Linked DNA regions of Homo sapiens: regions 1 and 3 are each linked to region 2. Evidence: fine-mapped expression QTL. A gene starts in region 2. Each other region holds a variant in brackets. All regions are shown on one strand. Distances are between the middles of the regions.

The links. PIP is the estimated chance that this variant, and not a neighbour inherited with it, causes the effect.
Region 1: its variant is fine-mapped to the expression of MYLK4 in whole blood (TOPMed, PIP above 0.99). The same link has a PIP of 0.9 or more in atrial appendage, breast, coronary artery, esophagus muscle, gastroesophageal junction and minor salivary gland.
Region 3: its variant is fine-mapped to the expression of MYLK4 in lung (TOPMed, PIP above 0.99). The same link has a PIP of 0.9 or more in whole blood.

Annotation. Positions count from the first base shown.
Region 1 is chr6:2,677,106-2,683,323 of GRCh38, forward strand. It overlaps MYLK4 (myosin light chain kinase family member 4), which reads right to left. Exons shown (of 13, transcript NM_001012418.5): 7 at 5,916-6,057; 8 at 3,116-3,186; 9 at 2,175-2,303; 10 at 1,115-1,267. Among named protein-coding and RNA genes, the nearest start is that of LINC01600, 46 kb to the left of the region's middle. The variant G/A (reference allele first, on the strand shown) is at 3,466.
Region 2 is chr6:2,747,559-2,753,776 of GRCh38, forward strand. MYLK4 (myosin light chain kinase family member 4) reads right to left here and starts at 3,364. Exons shown (of 13, transcript NM_001012418.5): 1 at 3,178-3,364; 2 at 1,578-1,848. The coding sequence starts at 1,736. RefSeq lists a silencer at 4,937-5,231.
Region 3 is chr6:2,781,489-2,787,706 of GRCh38, forward strand. It overlaps WRNIP1 (WRN helicase interacting protein 1), which reads left to right. Exons shown (of 7, transcript NM_020135.3): 5 at 1,918-2,073; 6 at 2,836-2,915; 7 at 3,519-5,464. The coding sequence ends at 3,794. Among named protein-coding and RNA genes, the nearest start is that of WRNIP1, 19 kb to the left of the region's middle. The variant A/T (reference allele first, on the strand shown) is at 2,274.

The DNA.
Region 1 (6,218 bases), 70 kb before region 2:
GGTTCTCTTCATCCTCTAAGGATGGCCTTATCTTTGTGTTAACCACATTTTATTACATCTTTTTAAAAAATATCTATCCCTTTTATTAGATGGTGAGTTACTATAGGCAGGGACTGGATTTGTGCCTCTATTCTTAGCACATGACACATTTCCTGGCACACAGTAGGTGATCAACACTTGAATGAAAGCATCTCCTGCCAAGCTGTGTGCCAGACCCACTGCCCACACTGTTTCCCCACTCCCTGTGACACCCTTCTACCTGTTGATCCACAGCCATGTGTATTAGTGACTTTAAAGCCATAAAGATAATAAAACGATAAGGCAAGTGCTATTGACCCTGAAAACCTTAACTACTTCAATCATTATACGGCTCAGGTATAAAGCCATCTGAAACAGCGTGTTTGATGGGTTAATCACAATGCCCTTCCCCTTCTATGATTCTAAAATGCAAATCCCTATATTTCAATGTCACTCTTTTTCATTCACTGAATTTTGAATTAATGTGGTTTTAGCATAACAGAAAATAGAGGGCCATGTAATAAATAACAGCCAAGTGTGCGGCCGTTGGGGAAGGAGAACTATCTGTTTGAGCCTCTGTTCTGCCAATTACTGGCGGTATGATGATGGGCAAACCACGTGGGATCTTCTACCCGATTTCTGCCTCATGGAGTTGGGGTCAGGGGTGGTAGTTAAAAGAGATAATGTCTACAAAGCACTTGGCATGATCTGGCCCACAGTAGTTTCCCAAATGAAATGGTAGTTAAAGATTCAGCTACACGGAACCATATACAGCTTAGTAGAGGTGAAAGGAATCCTAGAAATACTTCTCCCAAGCCTTCCATTTTGACAGTGAGTCAACTAAGGCCCAGCAGGAGTCCATGGCTGGTATGGCCATATGATAAATGGCAGGAAGAGAAAGGTTTGTGTAGCTTCATGACCAAAGCAGTCCCAGATCTCAGTAGACTGGGTCAAGAGGCTCAAACCTCATTCTATCCATGACTTTGCGCAAGCATCACAGATGTTAGTAAGAGAATAAATTCGAACAGCCCTGGTGGTAGGCCCTGCTTCCTTATCATCCCTACTGCGCCCGGAGCACAGGACGAACTTGCGTTACCTCTTCTCCTTAATCAGAAGCTTAGAGATGAACTCCTTGGCCTCCTCCGAGATGTCCTGAAATTCTTCATCCTCTAAGTCCCACCTGCAGGCCAGGATGTTGTTCAGCGTCTCAGCATCATTGTCACCCAGGAAAGGCGACAAACCGCTAAGTCTGGAGGACACGGGGTCCAGAGTGAGTATTTTTTAAACAGCCTCAACCCCTTTCCATACAGATTGCTTTTCTGGTTGTGCCATTTAAAGGTGAGAGAAGGAAAATAACCTAATCCTGAAGCATAATTTTATAACATATTATTGTAATCAAGAAAATGCTTGCCGCCCCCACCCAACTCCTAACTGAACAACTGCAGCAATAACAGAATATGAATATGAATATCAGCTTCCTTTTTAAAGCACTTTTCAGCTTGCAAAGTGCTACTACATGCTCAGATGGCAAACGCTAGGCATGTCACCTCTGAGGGGTGAGGCTAGCCTGAGTCATTTAGGAGATCAGTTTTTTTTTTTTTTTTTTGAGACGGAGTCTCGCTGTGTCACCAGGCTGGAGTGCAGTGGCGTGATCTCGTTTCACTGCAACCTCCACCTCCTGGAAGCAATTCTCCTGCAGCCTCCCGAGTAGCTGGGATTACAGGTGCATGCCACCACGCACGGCTGATTTTTGTATTTTTAGTAGAGATGGGGTTTCACCATGTTGGCCAGGATGGTCTCAATCTCTTGACCTCGTGATCCGCCCACCTCAGCCTCCCAAAGTGCTGGGATTACAGGCTTGAGCCACCGCGCCAGGCCATGTGAGCTTTTTAAATTAATTTTTGGCTTTTAGGTTGTGTCCTAGGAGTTAAAGTGATTAATGAAGAGGACACACATTTACTTTTCCAAATGATGTGCAGGGAAAGAATTCACTCCTTTCACCCACAGGAGTCAACAAAACCTAGAAGGCAACTGAGGATGGGACAGTGTTATTTATTTTTTAAATACCCCAATTGGGGCTTTTATTTAAAACGGCAAAACCTCAGAAAATATGCATGGAGTTGGAGAAGGGTCAGAGACAGAGGAGAGCTACTCACAGCATATAGGCGATGACCCCCACACTCCACATGTCAGTGGGAAATGAAACAAAATCATAGTTCACAACTTCAGGGGCGAGAAATTCTGGGGTTCCAAAGTTCACCTTCAGCTTCTCTCTGGGTTTGTATCTGCAATTTAAGAGACAAAGTGGAAGGATGGACGTGTCGATCAAAAATCGTGAACACTGAAATGATGTAGTCTATGAGACAAAATGACTTCAGCCATACAGCAAACTTCAGACAAACAAACATTGAAGGAAATCAAACAATCAAGCAAGAGGCTCAAAAACTTGTAAAGAGGCCCCAGAAAATTTAAAAGTCAAAATTCATACTAGGAAACCTTAAAAGCTGAACCAGTTGTTGGAGAAGCTGCTGTGAATAATGAGAACATCTGAATTACAGAAGATGACAAGAGGAAAACTGATATAGTCATTGACATGGGGATGATGTGAATAAGCCTGTAAAATGAATAAACACAGTACTGCAATAATTTACAACATCCATTTTATATGTGTCGTTAATGTGCTGAATTGTTAATGTGTCCACGTAAACTCTTTGTTCCCTGAAGAATCTTTTATGTGCCAGAACCCTTTGCAAACTTGCTTACGTTGTTAATATTTTTAAAGTAAATCTTCTCTGTACAGATGGATCAAATATGAAAGAGGGGACAAACTCTTGCAAATGCTAAATTAATGGCTTCTAATTTAATAAACTTCACTGTATTAGGTTTTAATTTTTTATACTTTTTACTGCATGCATTATAGAAACTTCTAAACACTCAAGTCTCAAATTTAGCAAGTTAAGGCCAAACATAATTTTTGTTAAATTAATTATAAATGAGATCATGAAACCAAAGAGCAGATCAGATATATGTTTGCAAAGGAAGGGCAACCATCATGTCCCCCAGCTCCATTCGTACACCTATGTCCAAATAGACATACCTTCTGGCCAATCCAAAATCAATAATTTTTATTTGCTTAGCATCCCGATTCACACACAGGATATTCTCAGGCTGCCAGGAGAAAGAGACACATTAGCAATGAAAACAACCATCATTCACTCAAATTGTCCTTGAACCACAACTAAAAATACAACGATGCTCAGAAAAAACATATCAGGCCTTTCACTTCGGGGCGGGCTTGTCCGTGTGGGTACTTTCTCCTTTAATTATGTGGTGGATGAGGTTGCGGGTATCCTGCCAACCCTGCATTATCCAGCCTGTCCTCTGCACGGCTTCACAGTTCACCATAATGCCTGAGTTCAGGCAGAGGCCTTGAGGGGAGCAAGAAAA[G/A]GAGGTTGCTTCAGTCCTTCCCAAATGTGCTGTGGAGGCCCGCTCAGGCCTGACATCTGCCCCTCTAAATTATTCAGTATGAATTTCCCCTTCTTGGAGAAATATTTTTCCCAAGATTGATGAGTTCCAAGGGAATTGACCTGCTCCATTCAAACAGCCACACTGAACATGCACTGTCACGTGAACGTTCCGGCCTCCAGAGCTTCCCTTTGCTCAACGCCTATGGGAAAGTCGCACGGCAGAGGAGGGCTTTTCTCTCCAGTCGTTCTTCAGTCTCAGCAGTTCCAAGGTTTTGCTGAGTTTGGTCTCAATGCCTAAAACCCCTGACTAAGTGTTCCCTTGGAGCTAGGCCCTGGTAAGACCTTAGCCTGCTGACCTGACAGTCTTGGGGTGCAGGGGGAGAAAATGGGGTGTAGTGCAGCCACTCAGTGTTCACAGAATGCCTTACAAGTGCACCTAATGTTTACTGGGGTAGAAAAACAGAGGTCTTGGGAAAGTAAGAGATTTGATTTAAAGTCAAGGCCATTTATAAAAGAGAAAAAAAGTTTTCAGAGTTAAGAACCCTCAGTCCCAATTCTTTACAAGCTGGAGGGCACCATCCCAGAAGCCAAATGCCCAGGATCCCGTTCCTCAGCCTTTAGTGGGATCAGGCTCCCCTCCCCAACCTGTCCAGGTGGAGAAGAGGTTCCAATGAGATCAGAAATTCAGAAACACATTATGAAATGACATAATGTCTCCTTATCAATATTCAATAGTACATTTGGTTGGGCAGAATATCTTTGGAAGCCCTTTTCTAAACTATCTCTAAAACAGATGTTTGTGAGTAAAAGTCATTATAGAGAAGGGGGTGCTACGTGAACCATTTGGTTTCATGCTTAAATCACTGATGGATCATGTATAAAGCTGTCCAATTGTGAAGGAGTACTGTGGCATCAAAAAGTTTGCAGGATATAGAGAAACCGTTTTGAGGGCATTTCAATAAGTTAGCCTTTTTATGACGATAAAATTAAACAATGTTCATTGGATAAATTTTGCAAAACAGAAAAATATAAAACAGACTGTTTGTAAGTCACCTATAATCTCCCCCCACATACTGACAATCACTCAATATTTTTGGCCCTTTTCCTTCCAAGGAGCTTTCAGAAAAGCAGCTCCTTAAGGACCCATCCAGCTGTCACCTTTATGATGATCTCTGCATCCAAGCCATAACTAAAACTGCCCACTGCAGGTCCTCAATCAATGTTATGAAGCCTCATATGGAGTCATTTGACTTACAATAGGTTTGCTCCTAGTTCCAGTTGCCAATCAAATCCCTGTAGGGATATCTGCAGAATATCTACATTCAATGAAAATGCTCCATGAAAGCATGCATTATCAAACTCAGTTCATAGTGAGGGTTTTGCTAATGATTTTTAGCCTCTGACTTTGTCATTTTATAAACCACTTCCTCCTGCTCTCCTCCTGCTCAAAAGTGAATGGGAAAGGCAAGGCACATAAATCAAGACAGTGAGGGAAGCCAAGTTATAGGAAGAGAGGCCCATGGAAACCTATTTCAGGAGGCTAAATTTATTTAGCTATGCAATCCCTAGTGAATGCAATAGATGGGATGTTATATAGATTGTATATTTTATGTTACTGTCACGCTGTGCAAACAGGGAAATGAGAAAATGACCAAGCCACACAAGACGTACTTTATGATACTTAGTCCCAATATGGGACTTGATCAGGGTTGTTGGGCCTAGGTCTTTTATTGGTTGTAACTAAGACTACATACAGTCCGATTCTAGGAACTTCATAATGAGACATGAGAGAGGTAAAGAGGGAAGGGGCAATCAATAGGAGGAGAAAGAAAGGCGGCTTGGCTTCTGTGTGCTTTCCACCATTGGCAGTGGGGTGCCCACCCCACCCTCTCTTCTCCTTAGCACTTTGGCCCCATCCTTCCGACTGTCCTCTGCTGCATTCTCCATAGGATTCTATTCCACAGGGCAGCAAACCCACAGAAAAACAAGTCCCAAAGTCTGGAGCTTCCTGAGTGACTCGAGGAGCTGCCGGCGATTCTTGGAGACCTGGAAAGGTTGACTACTACTTAGGGAATTCTGAGTTAGCTAAAATCCTCTCACCTACTTGTCCTGATGAGAGGGCTACCACGTGGATACCGCTGTGGTGGTGGTGACTGTTTTCATTCTAAACTTTTAGGGAAACCATTGCCATATAGATTTCCTTAACGCAGGCAAGTTACAAGAATCTGAATATCACCCCTGAAGATGGAACATGCAAATATTAGGGAGTGACAGAAGCTGAGAATAAGGAGATGAGGGTAACAATTCAGATGTTTATTCATTTCTGAAATGACTGTACCAATTTCCCCAGCTGGCATATAATAGCAGACAGGGCCCACTGTGCAAGAGCTGGGAAGGGCTTACGTCTCACAGGATACAAAACACCCTTACCTTCAGGTCCAAGTGGAGAATGTACATCTGATGCATGTGCCTTATCCCCTCACATATCTGCTTCATGAACAGGATGGTATCAAGCTCCGTCAAATTGTAGCTCTCATCGATGATGCGGTCAAACAGCTCCCCACCATCCACACTGCAGAGGGAAGAGGACTGAAACCCTCAGTCCCGATTTCCTTACCACCATGTGCTTTTCTCGTAGTGACTTGTCGTGCAAGTTCTGCTACCTCTTCTGAAAGGTGTATGTGCAGTTATTTCTCTGCCTTCTTTACTATCTTACTTAGATGATTCTTATCT
Region 2 (6,218 bases):
CACCTGGGCTGGTCTCAAACTCCTGGCCTCCAGTGATTCTCTTGCCCCAGCCTCCCAAAGTGCTGGGATTACAGGTATGAGCCATGTGTCCTGCTTATCTCACTCTTTAGAGTGTTGCCCATTTATAAAAATTGTATCATAGATTTTGGAGAAAAACAGTACTTGAAAGATAATGAAATTCATATAAACTATTACAGTTAGTTGATGATTTCAAAGTTCTCCAAGAAGAATATTTTGTCTTCTCTGTCCTACCGAAATTAATAAACAGAAAAAATTATCCTGTTTGTACCACTGAAAACCCTAATGAGAAAGTCATGTCTCACTTAATTTTGCCTGTAGATATTTCTCCTTGGTCTATATTGAACTCATGGGGAAAGCAGAGGTCTCAAAAAAATGTTTCAATCTGATTCATTTATTCTCTCCAGCACATTTTGTCATTTCTTATTCACTTACAATAAAAAGCCTCCTAGACCTTTTATATACAATCTCTCTATTTCATTGTCTATTGCATTGTTAGAAACGCCCTTCCTACCTGAATAGTGTTTTTTAGAACAGTAGCTGGGCAAAGAAGGATGTTTTCCAAACCTGCCTGATAAGAATCACTTGCTCTGATTATCAAAAATAATGGTTCCCAGCCCTCAACCAGAATTCACTTAAATAGATCTGTGCATTCCAAAAACACTTTTGGTGCCTATTTGTTTCCGTTACTAGGAAAGCAACTGAGGAAACATGAACAAATAACACGAGGTTTCCCAACCTTAAGGAGCCTTGTCTAGAGAAAGGTGATCAACATGTTCAAAACCACCACATGTGCTGGAATGAAGGCACGGGCAAAATGCTTGATGCTCCCACCGGGCAAGGAGCCAACGGATGATGGGCAGGAACTGACTGGGCCAAGGCAGGGGAGGTAATTGCTGCTGCCGCTAACACATATTAAATGCTGACTCTAGTGACAGATACTAGGCGGAGTGCTTTACAGACGTGATCACACTTAATTTTCACAATTGCTATTATCTCACTAATTCAGATGTGGCAAGCCCTTGGTTAAATTAATATTTTTCCCAAGAACGAGCAGCTGGAATGGGGCTCAGAACTCTCGTTCTGCACAGAGGAGGGTACAAGCCCCACCGTCGTGCCATCAGCAAGTCTTTCTTGTCCCTTCTCTGGACTTCACTATCAACAGCTCTGCTGTCTACCGCGTGAGGAACTCAAGATCTGAAGGAAAAAGGAGAAACTTCTTTCTGCAGAACAGTGTGCCTCTCAGAGCCCTTTTCTGAATTTCAAGCCCAAATCCATCATGCTAAAGGATTCTTCTTCATTTCTGCAAGCTGGCTGTATAACTCCTAAGCCACTAACTAAAAGTGAAGTCGACTGCTGGCAGAAATGCAGTTTCAAAGGCCTCCTAATTATTTACCAAACACAATTGTATAGTCGACACACACAATTCTCACTGAAGCAAAGTGGAATGATGCCTATTCATAAACTTTCCTTAATTGTACTCACAAGCGGCTCCATGACATTAGAAAAGATAAGATAGAATGAATACTTTTTAGGAGACTAAATTAGAACATGATTACCTCATTATGTCCAGATCTTGAATCCTGGTCCCCAGAATTTTTTTCCAGAAAACACTTCACTTTCTCCACCTCTTCCCTGCACTGAAAAAAGGCCATTTTCTCCAGCTGGTTGCTGTTATAACACGTGTTGAATTCTTCCAGCCTCTTCACTTTTAACATCTTAGTAGTGAGTCCGATTAAGCTACTTTCTGGAGTGTGGTTTTCGTCTCCCTCTGTCTCCGATTTATAAATCAGGACACAATTATGACTCTTCAGTGCTTCTTTCTCTTGACTGCAAAGAAAGGAAACACAAAAAGTTCTCATCACGTATTCATGCATTTGACTTCTTGAGAAAATGACCAGTGAGAATTTGGAAGTCCCTTCTGTTTAAACTGGAGAGAGGATCCAAAATCAGGAAAAGAAATACTAACATTCATATTGAGTTTCCAACATTGGAACTTTAAAAGGAAAAAAAATTTTTTCACTTTAAAACTACAAAAGCAAACAGTAAGAAGCAATGTCAAGATTCACTGGTGATGAAATATGCTCCTTATTGCACAAAACAAGCCGTAGATCAAGTGGCCAGCTTGGATGTAAATTATAAAGTATCTTTGGGTTTAATTGGAACCGCAGGTTTTGCAGCCCCGTGGGAAGGGCTTATCACAGAAGGGGTCTCTCTGCTTCCCCTGGCCTCCCTCTGCAGAGGGATCGCTCCCGAATGAGTCCTTTTCCAGAACTCTTCTCTACCTATGCCTTAAAATGTGTGGTGTTTATTTGTGAAAAGAAATTTATTTCCTTACAGTCTTCTCACGTGGACAGCACTCCCAGATACCTTTCCTTGCATCTGCATTAACAGCTATGTACCGAGAAGTTCAGAGTCTTTTCACTCTCCTTAAAATACTTTCCTCGCAAATGAAGTAATGCAGCATACATAATTCGCTTTGATACTAGAGACATATACGCATGTCTATATGTACACATCACTTGATTGCATAGAGAGGCAGGGAGAGGGAGAGACATTTGAATTTGTGCTAGTTCCGCATGGCTGACAACTGAGGCCCCCTGGTGGAGATTTTCCGAAAAGCGCCTCTTCGAGCATTTTCTCCGCTTAAAAACCGTATTGTGATTCTCATCAGAAAACTTAATATTTTGTTTTGTCAGTTCCTATAGTAAAATGATACTCTTGAGTTCCAAAGTGTTTAAAATTCACTGCTCTAACAAATTATACTTATCCACATAAAGAGCTTACATTCAAACAAATAAAAATGCAAATATTAATACTATCAACCAGAGCTCTACAGATATATTACAGATCATTCTTAGCATTCTTTCAAATTGCCCTGAAAAAATTATTAAAATAAGGAAACAAATGCATGGCTATTTCTAAGGCAAACTACGACTAAAATACTATGGTTAATTGCAGATGAAACTCAAGTTGGATCAGGAAGCCACACAAAATTAATGTATTAAAACAAAAGCTTAGGATTAAGATACAATAATTTTGCAAAGAAATATTAAACATTAAGCTCTACCTGAAGTTTGGTACAATTTGTTATTGAAGGTAACTTAGAAAAAAGGGGAGGAGATTTGAGAGGTTATAACAATAAACAAAGATAATTACCATTGATAGGATCACATCGAAGAGCTTGAGCCACTCCAAGTCTAGAGCATACATTCCAGAAGATAAAGAGAAATTTTGCAGAATTCAAACTGACTATGAAAGTCTCTGGTAAAAGTTTTGACTCTCAGTCGTATAAATCTTCTGAAAAGACAAGTGTCCACTACGAGAGGAAGTATCTTCTCTCTCAAATGCCACTTTCAGCCCCTGTTTAAATTAATATGGCTCTTGATCTCACGTTGCTCAGCTGTTGCCTTCTTAGTCAGATGGGGAAGAATATTAATTTTAGACACCAGGCTTTTCAAGGCCAATGGCTCCATTTCAGAGGTCAGGTAAGGAGAGGATGAACCGGGAACACTGGATGAAATATCACCTTCACCTTTCCCTCGTATCATTGTGTCAATACTCTCGGATTTACAAAGCTAGATTTGTCCTCGGCAATCATCTGCCTGGACCTTCTGCCCCTTTCAGACTCAGGATTATTTAAGTGCTCATTAAATTTCCCCCAGTAGGGAAAATGCCAGGTGTGGCAACCCCACAGCCACCTCTGTTTGCCCATCTTACGCTTTGAGCATATCCAACTGCAATATAGAAGATCTTCTGAAAGCAGTTAGCAAGTTTGTTTTATTTTTCTCAGTTCTTAAAGATGTTTGCAAAGTCTCCAACCATTTCTAGCTCTAGGGAAAGGTCAAAGGCACAGGCATCCAGGAAACAGGAATAAATTTTTCATAAATTCTCCTTAAGCAACACTAGGACTTCATCCGTAGTTTTCTGCACAGACCAAGAAAGGGGAATTTCAACCCACCTGCCCGACTCTCACAGTAGTGCATCCCTAGATTCACTGAAGTGGCATAAAACTTTGATTGCCCAGAGGCTGGACTTTGCAGTCTTGAAAACCCTGCAATTTTTCAGGGCCTGGCCAATTGTCACCTCTTATTTGGAGCCTGTGTTAGCCCCTCTATGCCCCATTCTAACACCAGCCTCTGCTGCTCTTCTGCTTCTTTTAAAAAAAAAACCTTATTTTTAATTCAGATCGATGCATTCCATGTGAAATAAAAATACATATTTTTCCATTTTATGTAGTATTAATGAATTACAGCAAAATCTTTTTTAAAACACAAAACGCTTGTTATTTTTCAGATTGGAGAGCTTTGTTCTTCAGCAAAAGTAATGAAGTGGAACTATAAATTTGTGGAGATAAATTATCTGACAAAAGTATTATACAAAGACTAAGCTGGTTTGAGGTTACCAATTTTGTTAGTATAATTAAATTGTGTAGAAGTACTGATAAGGCAACAAATGCCCTGCCAGAGGCAAGATGTGTGTGGGCTGCTGCTGATCCAACCACATCCTCCACCCGGACCACCACCACGCAAAAGCAGACTTCCTATCTCGTTGGCTCCAGCAAACCAACCACAGGCTTGAGTGAGCCAGAGGCCAGGAGAATCTGCTCCTTAGCTTATTTTTTTGTAATAAACTTTTCCTTTTAGAGTAGTTTTACATCTACAGAAAAGGTGCAAAGGTAGTTCAGAGTTCCCCTTGCCCTGCACCCCGAATCCTCTGTTTTTAACATCTTACGTTGGTATGGTATACTTGTCACAATTAATGAACCATGGTGAACGTTATTATTAACTAAACTCAATACTTTATTGTTGCTGGGTTTTTTTTTTCCCCAAATGCCCCTTTTCTGTTCCAGAATCCCATGCAGGATTCCACAGTACATTTAGAATCAGTAGGATTTATGATAGATTGGGTATGGGGTATGAAAGAAAGATGGTAGACACCTTTGCATATTTTCTTCTGAGCACTTGAAAGACAGAGTGAACATTAACTGAGATGGAGACGGCTGTGGGAAGGGCAACTCTGGAGGGAAAGGTCAGGCATGAAGTCTTTGGCAAGTCCATTAAACGTTCAAGTTGAATAGGCTGTGGAGATAGAAACTGGAGTTCCGGGGAGGGGTGTAGGCTGGAGATAAGAATTTGGAAGGCATCCACATATAGACATTTCCATGCACAATATACATTCAATACATATTTGATTAATGACTAGATAGAATGATCTTTAATTGTGTCTACTTGCCCTAAAAAGCAAGTCAATTAAAATAATCCATGCTAAAAGTGACTGATTGTCTGGTTCTGCTGCATCACACTGTTCCCAGCTTCCGATGGCATACAGGACAAGCACACTGCTGGCACAACCCTTGACCACAAAAAAACAGGTTATACATGCATACTCATTCTGGTCTATCAGCCTAGCCTCAGGATCCTAAGTCCATACCCATAAAATGTTCTGCATGCTTAAAGATGCTCTTATACCCGGAAAAATTCATTAGTGAGGAATATGAGCAGGCCCAGGAACACTTTTCCAGTATTTCCATATTTTGGAGTTATACTTCTCTAAAAAATACCAACATCAGGAAAACAGCACCCTACAGAGCCATGGAAAAGAATCCCTTGATTTTTTTCAAGGGACATTTCCATTAGCTGAGTAAGAGACTGTGTTGTCAAAGGAGCCACATGAAGAAACATCGTCGACAGCTCTTGTCTACGGGTTGGCATTGAAACCCGGCTGGATTACACTAAGAGTTTTTGTTTCTACACAGCGTTCTGAATGTTTCCAGAACAAGACCTCTTGAATGTTTACACACAAAAGCGGAGCAACAGTACAAATACCCAAATGCAAATAAAAAGCTACTGCATCCCTGTTACCCACATTACAATAGAACTTCCTTACTTTCAAAAATCACCACTGAATACGACCCATAAAAACGAAGATTGATAAATTGCACTTCTTCAAAATTCAAAACGTTTGCCTTTGAAAAAACACTATTAGGAAAATGAAAAGACACTATTATGAAAATGAAAAGACCAGCTACAGATGTATAGAAAATACTGTGAAGTCACATATTTGACAAAGGACTGCATCTAGCATATACAACTTAATAATATATGACAAAACATTCCAGTTTTTTAAATGGACAAAAGATTAAAACAGACCTCACCAAAGAAGATATAAAAATGGTTAATAAGCACATGAAAAAAAAT
Region 3 (6,218 bases), 34 kb after region 2:
CCTGTTAGCTTATACTCTTGGGCCTTTTTATAACTCCAGTGAGACAAAGACCCACCCCCAGAGTTGTGATTATTTTTGTATATGCCACCTAGTTCATAGTTACCCACTAGTAGGATCCAGTGATGTTTCTGCATCAGAGTGAAGGAATTTCTAAATGAGAGCAAACTCTCTGCCATGCATTGACATCGGGGTTCTATAGAAGTCGTCAGATTTCAGGTTATAAAGCAGTGTGTAATAAAAGCAAACATGGAAGGTAGCATAGAATAATACTAGTATCTATCACTGATGCAAAAGAATCTTTTTACAGTGCCTGCTCTGTGCCAGGCGTGTGTTATTTAATACAGCCCTGTGAGGTAAGTGGTCTCGTTTTTCCCATTTTACAGATGAGAAACCTGAGGCACAGTGAGGATCAGGAACTTGCCCATGGCCCATGAGCTTGGGGGTCCAGCCCAGGCTGTTTGGTCCCAGAGCCTGTGCTCTTGTCCATTATACTGGTGGTATTGCCCCTGGCATTGACAAAGTGGGAAAAGATGACTAACCTGTGTAGGGGGAGTTTAAATTTGACATAAAGTGGTGTGGGTAGTTTCTTCCAGCCCCCATGCCCGTGAGTTTAGCCAGGCCTGTTACCTGCTACCCTCTTCCCCGCCTTCCTCCACCCTGCAGAGGAGCAGAGCGTAGCCTGAGTGCCTGGGCCAGCAGGGTGAGGGAGTGGGCCAGAACCATGCAGATGTCATCCAGGACACCCTCTCGGCCAGTGTCCATAGCACTCTGACTTCACCAGGGGAGCCCTGCACAGGAGACACTCAGTTTGTTCTCAGAAATCCAGTAGCTGGGCTGACCCATCCATCTGCCCTGGCTCTCAGAAACCAGAATCACTCAGGCTGAGCCGTGGGTCCTGCAGGTCTTTCCCCTGTGGGAGGCCAGCATCTTCGCTTGCTCTCTTCTCCACCTGAAGACCAACTGTCATCTTACCAGCGAGCTCAGCTGCCAGGGTTTGTGGCTGGCGCCAGTCGTATTGTGGACATGGGCTTATGCTGAGCACAGACCAGGTGCTCCTCTGGGAGGAGTGAGACTCACGGGAACACCATCCTCCGCTTTCTCGTGAGGAGGGTGCCCCCTCCTTGAACTTACCTAAGGGACGATGGCCAGAGAATAGTGAAATGTATGCAGGTGCCACTGCTTAGTTCCTGAGAACTGTTTAGCTGTCATTTTTTTGCCCTTAAATATGCCTTTTTTTAAAGCACATTTCACTGATTTCATGTGAATCTAGGGTAAAAATGGAGTAGTAAGACCAGGCGGTGAGAGAGTGGGCTTCCGTCCACTTCAGGGCGGAAGCTGGTTAGTCCACGTGTCGGTCCTTCTGGGACCCTGCCACACAGGTGTCCCCACACCAAGGCTGGCAGAAGGAGGTTTAAATGACCACAGGCTTCGGATATCAGAAAGGCAGCTGGAAATGACACTGAGGAACAGATGGGCTATAACAGCTGCCCTTGCCACTTGGCTCTACATCCTCCTGGCTCCGAGCAGGCCCACCGTTGCTTTTCCTCCAGTAGATGGTGGGCCACGGGATAGAGCCAGAACAGAAGACTCGTCCCCCTCCACTCTTGTCTCTGGCAAATCCACCAGCTGGGAGGACCACCTTTCCTCCCTCCTGCCTCTGTGCGTGTGCGTGCACTCCATGTCGACAGCCACAGGTTTCTGCTGCAGCAGCCTCTTCCCCTGAATAGGACTGGGATTAAGCCCCAGCAGCTGGTGCACCCCACTCAGAGCACGGTTAAGGCAGCTGCCCAAACCTCTCCTCGGCTTTCTCAGGGCCTTTATTCGTTCAGGCTTTCTGGAAGTCAGCTGGCGGAGGTGAAGATGGCTTGGGCGCCCCTCCTGTGAGCTCTGTGTGAGTGGTGCTCTTTGTGATGTCAGGTGAGGAGCATTACAACTGCATCTCCGCCCTGCACAAGTCCATGCGGGGCTCAGACCAGAACGCCTCCCTCTACTGGCTGGCTCGCATGCTCGAGGGAGGAGAGGACCCACTCTACGTGGCACGGAGGCTTGTCAGGTTTGCCAGCGAGGACATAGGTGAGTGTGATGGGAGGGTCCCGGAGTCCTATGTCCATGAGGGTGGGGAAATGGCTAACAGTTACATCGTGGCTTTTTTTTTTTTTTTTTTTGCAGGGCGGGGTGGGCGGGGGTAGCAGGAAGAATGTCTCAGGGCTATGTGAGACTGGCAGGAGAAGATAAGACTTTATGCCTGAGCTCAGTCGTTTATTTCCTGGTGT[A/T]TGTGCTTTTGAATGTTTATGTTCATAAAGTCACCATTTTCTGTTTCCTCTTCGGGAATGTTTTTACTAACATGAGTGGCTATTCAGAGTATTGCAATAGATGAGCTGCTTTTAAATTTGCTTTAAGTCAGGTGTTCAAGGTTTTCTTTGGACAGCTCCCAAGGTAGAAATGGAAGACTCTAGACACTATATGAAGAAAAAGATCAGGAAAGCTCTCCTCTTCTTTGGTCTTAGGGGATGTTTTGTTTTTAGTGTTTCCATCCTGGTGAATGTCTCCATAGCCTTCACTTCTTATGTTTGTTATACAGAGACTCATGTTTTTCTAGATGCAGAGTTTTTATCCACAAGGAAACAGTTCTTAACACCACACAGTAACCACTCTCAATATTTCTTGCATAAGTTCATGGGATCAGAGACTAGAGCTAAGTCAGGCTGTTTTGCTACATGGGATTGTTTTGGTCACCAAGTGTACAAGCAGTGGTGGTCTGTGGTCGCCTGCACATAGGCCAGGAGGACAGTGTGTGTCATGACTGAAACTCTCCTTTGTCTCTGTGTGTGGCAGGTCTGGCAGACCCGTCTGCGTTAACACAAGCGGTTGCTGCCTACCAAGGCTGTCATTTTATAGGCATGCCTGAATGTGAGGTAAAGTAATCAGCTCATTTCTTGCAAATCACTTCTTTTCTCTCTCGTGCTCTGTCCCTTTGTAGATTTGAATAAATGTCCCTCCTTCACCATTGGTGTATTGGACCCACTGAGTATGCTGCTTGGCTTTGGAATTCCAATTGTAGACTCTTAGACTCCTAGAGAGGGAAACCTTCTGTGTCAACGAGGTCATGTTTCAAACTGTTCTCGGGATTCCGGGGTTCAGAGCACATGCTCCATATGTTCCAGGGAGCAGAAAGGTTAAAGGAGCTGAACAGCAAAGCCTCTGCAAGTTCGCCCCCAGAGCAGCTTCATATTCATCTCTTTTATATATTGGGGGCTTAAGAAAAATTTAATGTAGTAAAAAGTCCTTCAGTTAAAAAAAAAAATGAAAACCACTCACCTGGTTTGCCTCTCGTTTCACCTCATGAGAATTTCTTCTGTCTGTCGTAGGTGGTTATCCAGACTGTAGGCGCAAAAGGGGGATAATAAAAGCATGTGGGGATCTTCTCAGAATTACCTAGAGCTGTGTATCAGAAGGGGCTCTGCAGAACAGAAGCTTGGCATCTTGCTAGTAAAATGTGTCCTCTGTGTCATTGGTAGGTGCTTCTGGCCCAGTGTGTGGTCTACTTTGCCAGAGCCCCAAAGTCCATTGAGGTGTACAGCGCCTACAACAACGTCAAAGCCTGCCTGAGGAACCACCAGGGGCCACTGCCCCCCGTGCCCCTGCACCTGAGGAACGCGCCCACTAGGCTGATGAAGGATTTGGGCTATGGCAAAGGCTACAAGTACAACCCCATGTACAGCGAGCCTGTGGATCAGGAGTACCTGCCTGAAGAGTTGAGGGGGGTAGATTTCTTCAAGCAGAGGAGGTGCTGACTCCTCAGGGCACGACAGCAGAAGGATGTTGCTTTTTTAAGGGAGGGCCAGAAAGAAAGTTAGTGGATTGCAAAGTTGGTTGCCTGGTGGAAGTTAGAACAGACCAACATTTTGTGCCAGAAATTTAAGAGTTCCATAGGTGGAGGCGCAGTTCTTTCGAATAAATGTGTAACTTTGAAATTGTGTTCATTTGCACTCGGTGCAGCGGTTATGCTTATGAAAATACCTGGCAGCTTTGTGCAATGAATTAATGTTATAAGGAATTATCTATTTTGTCATAGTATTTAAGTCATAATGTCATTTCAGAATTCAGTTCTGTAGGATTTTCTTTTCTTTAAAAAATGTATATTCTGGGTAGTTTTAATTGGTAAAAAAATGTAATTGTGATTTAATACTGCATAGTGTTTTGGGTATTTTTTTTATATGCAAAGGTCTTACGAGCCAATAAAACTATTTCAAAGTACTCTTCGATTCTGTCATGGTTTTCCTGCCTGGATGCTAGGTACCAGCGTTGTCACCATTGCATTTGGTGGGTGGATACTGGGAAGGAGAAATCACCCCAGATGGGAAGAGTGGGGAGCTTAAGTTAAGAAGTCAGTGTTATCTTGTTGAAAGTTAACTCTGATCTCTTTAAAGGAATACATAAAGGAATTCTTTAAATGGCTTGTGGAAGACTCCAGTAGTCCCATGCCCATTTTTTCCCACTTGTCCTGGTTTCTTCTTGCAGCTCCATATTTCTAAACAGTCGTTTTTCTTTTACTTTATGTGTGTCCTGAACACAAAATACGCCACTCCTTCTGCTCAGTTAAGAGTTATTTGTCCCTACTGCTACTTCCTCTCCCTCTCCTTAGTTGCATGTCGTGCATATGCCCACAAGGATGGCCCCTTCAGGTAGTCGGTTCTCCTCCTGCTGTTGCGTGATCCCTCCTGGGGTCCTCCTGCCATGTCTGGAAGGCTGCCGGCTGTTGGCCTGGGACGTCCTCTGCCTTTATTCTGAGTGAGATGCCCATTTTCTGGATGCTCCATCCCGCCTTACTGGTTTATTCCGCTATTTCAGTGCAACCCATCCTCTAGTAGTTTTATCAGGCTGGAGGGACTGTATGTTGCAGAGGCTTGGCCCGACTGGCCTCCCTCCTTCTGTCTGGAGTGGTTGCACTGCAGTGTGCAGTTGCCATCCCCAGAATCTCCCTTCATCATCACCCTGGAGCTTTCCTCTGCTTCTCCCTGCACCCCATCTGATGACAGGACTGACTGCTTTCTGGCACAGGTGGCATGTACCCTCTAGTAGCTTTATGGAGCAGGGGTGTGTGGAGGAAAAGTATTTTTAGACCTCAGGAGACTCAAAATGCTTTTATTGTACCTTCAGACGTGTCTGAGGGTTTGGCTAGTAATAAATTGTAGGTAAGAAATTACTTGTGCATTGTTTTACACTTTCCCACATTGTTGTCAAGTTTGAAGGCATCCTGATGTGTGTGGTCTTTTGTTTGTAACCTCTATCAACTTGTAGACTCTTCTGTCTTTGCTCCCCGTGTTTTAAAAGTCTGCACTGGGTACTTGTTGGGCCTTTCAATCTGGAAACTCCTTTCAGTTCTAGGGAAGTTTCTTTTTTTATTCAATAAATTTATTTATTTATGAGACCAACTCTTGCTCTTTTTCCCAGGCTGGAGGGCAATGATGCGATCTCGGCTCACTGCAACCTCCACCTCCCAGGTTCAAGCGATTCTCCTGCCTCAGCCTCCCAAGTAGTTGGGATTACAGGCGCACACCACCACACAAGGCTAATTTTTGTATTTTTAGTAGAGACGGGGGTTTCACCATGTTGGTCAGGCTGGTCTCGAACTCCTGACCTCGGGTGATCCACCCACCTCAGCCTCCCAAAGTGCTGGGATGACAGGCGTGAGCCACCGCGCCCGGCCTCAATAAATATTGAGTGCCTGTTTTATGCTGAGCATTCTTGTTGATGTTAAAACACATCAGTGAGCAGAAGAGACCAAAAATTCTGTGTTCTTAAAGCCTATGGTATGAAAAATAATATGTTAATATGCCAAATAGTGATAAGTGCTATGCTAAGGAGAAAATGAATGAAAGATTGAATATGGAAAGGGGAGGTATGGGTGCAGTTTTAGTAGAGTAGCCAAGGTGGATCTCACCAAGAAAGTGTTTGAGTCAAGACTTCAAGGAAGTGAATGTGCCTTTCAGACACCCGGGAAAGGATCATCCCAGGCAGAGGGAAAAGCAAGTGCAAAGGCGCCGAGGGAGGATGGAAGGCTGGGTGGGTTCAGCATCCAGTAAGGAGACCAGTCTAGCCGGAGGGGAGGAAAGAGTGGTAGAAGTCGAGGCCGAGGATCATGGAGCTTCAGATAAGGTGGGACCTTTTAGGTCATGGGAAGGACTTTGGCTTTTACTCAAGGTTTCCCTCAAAGA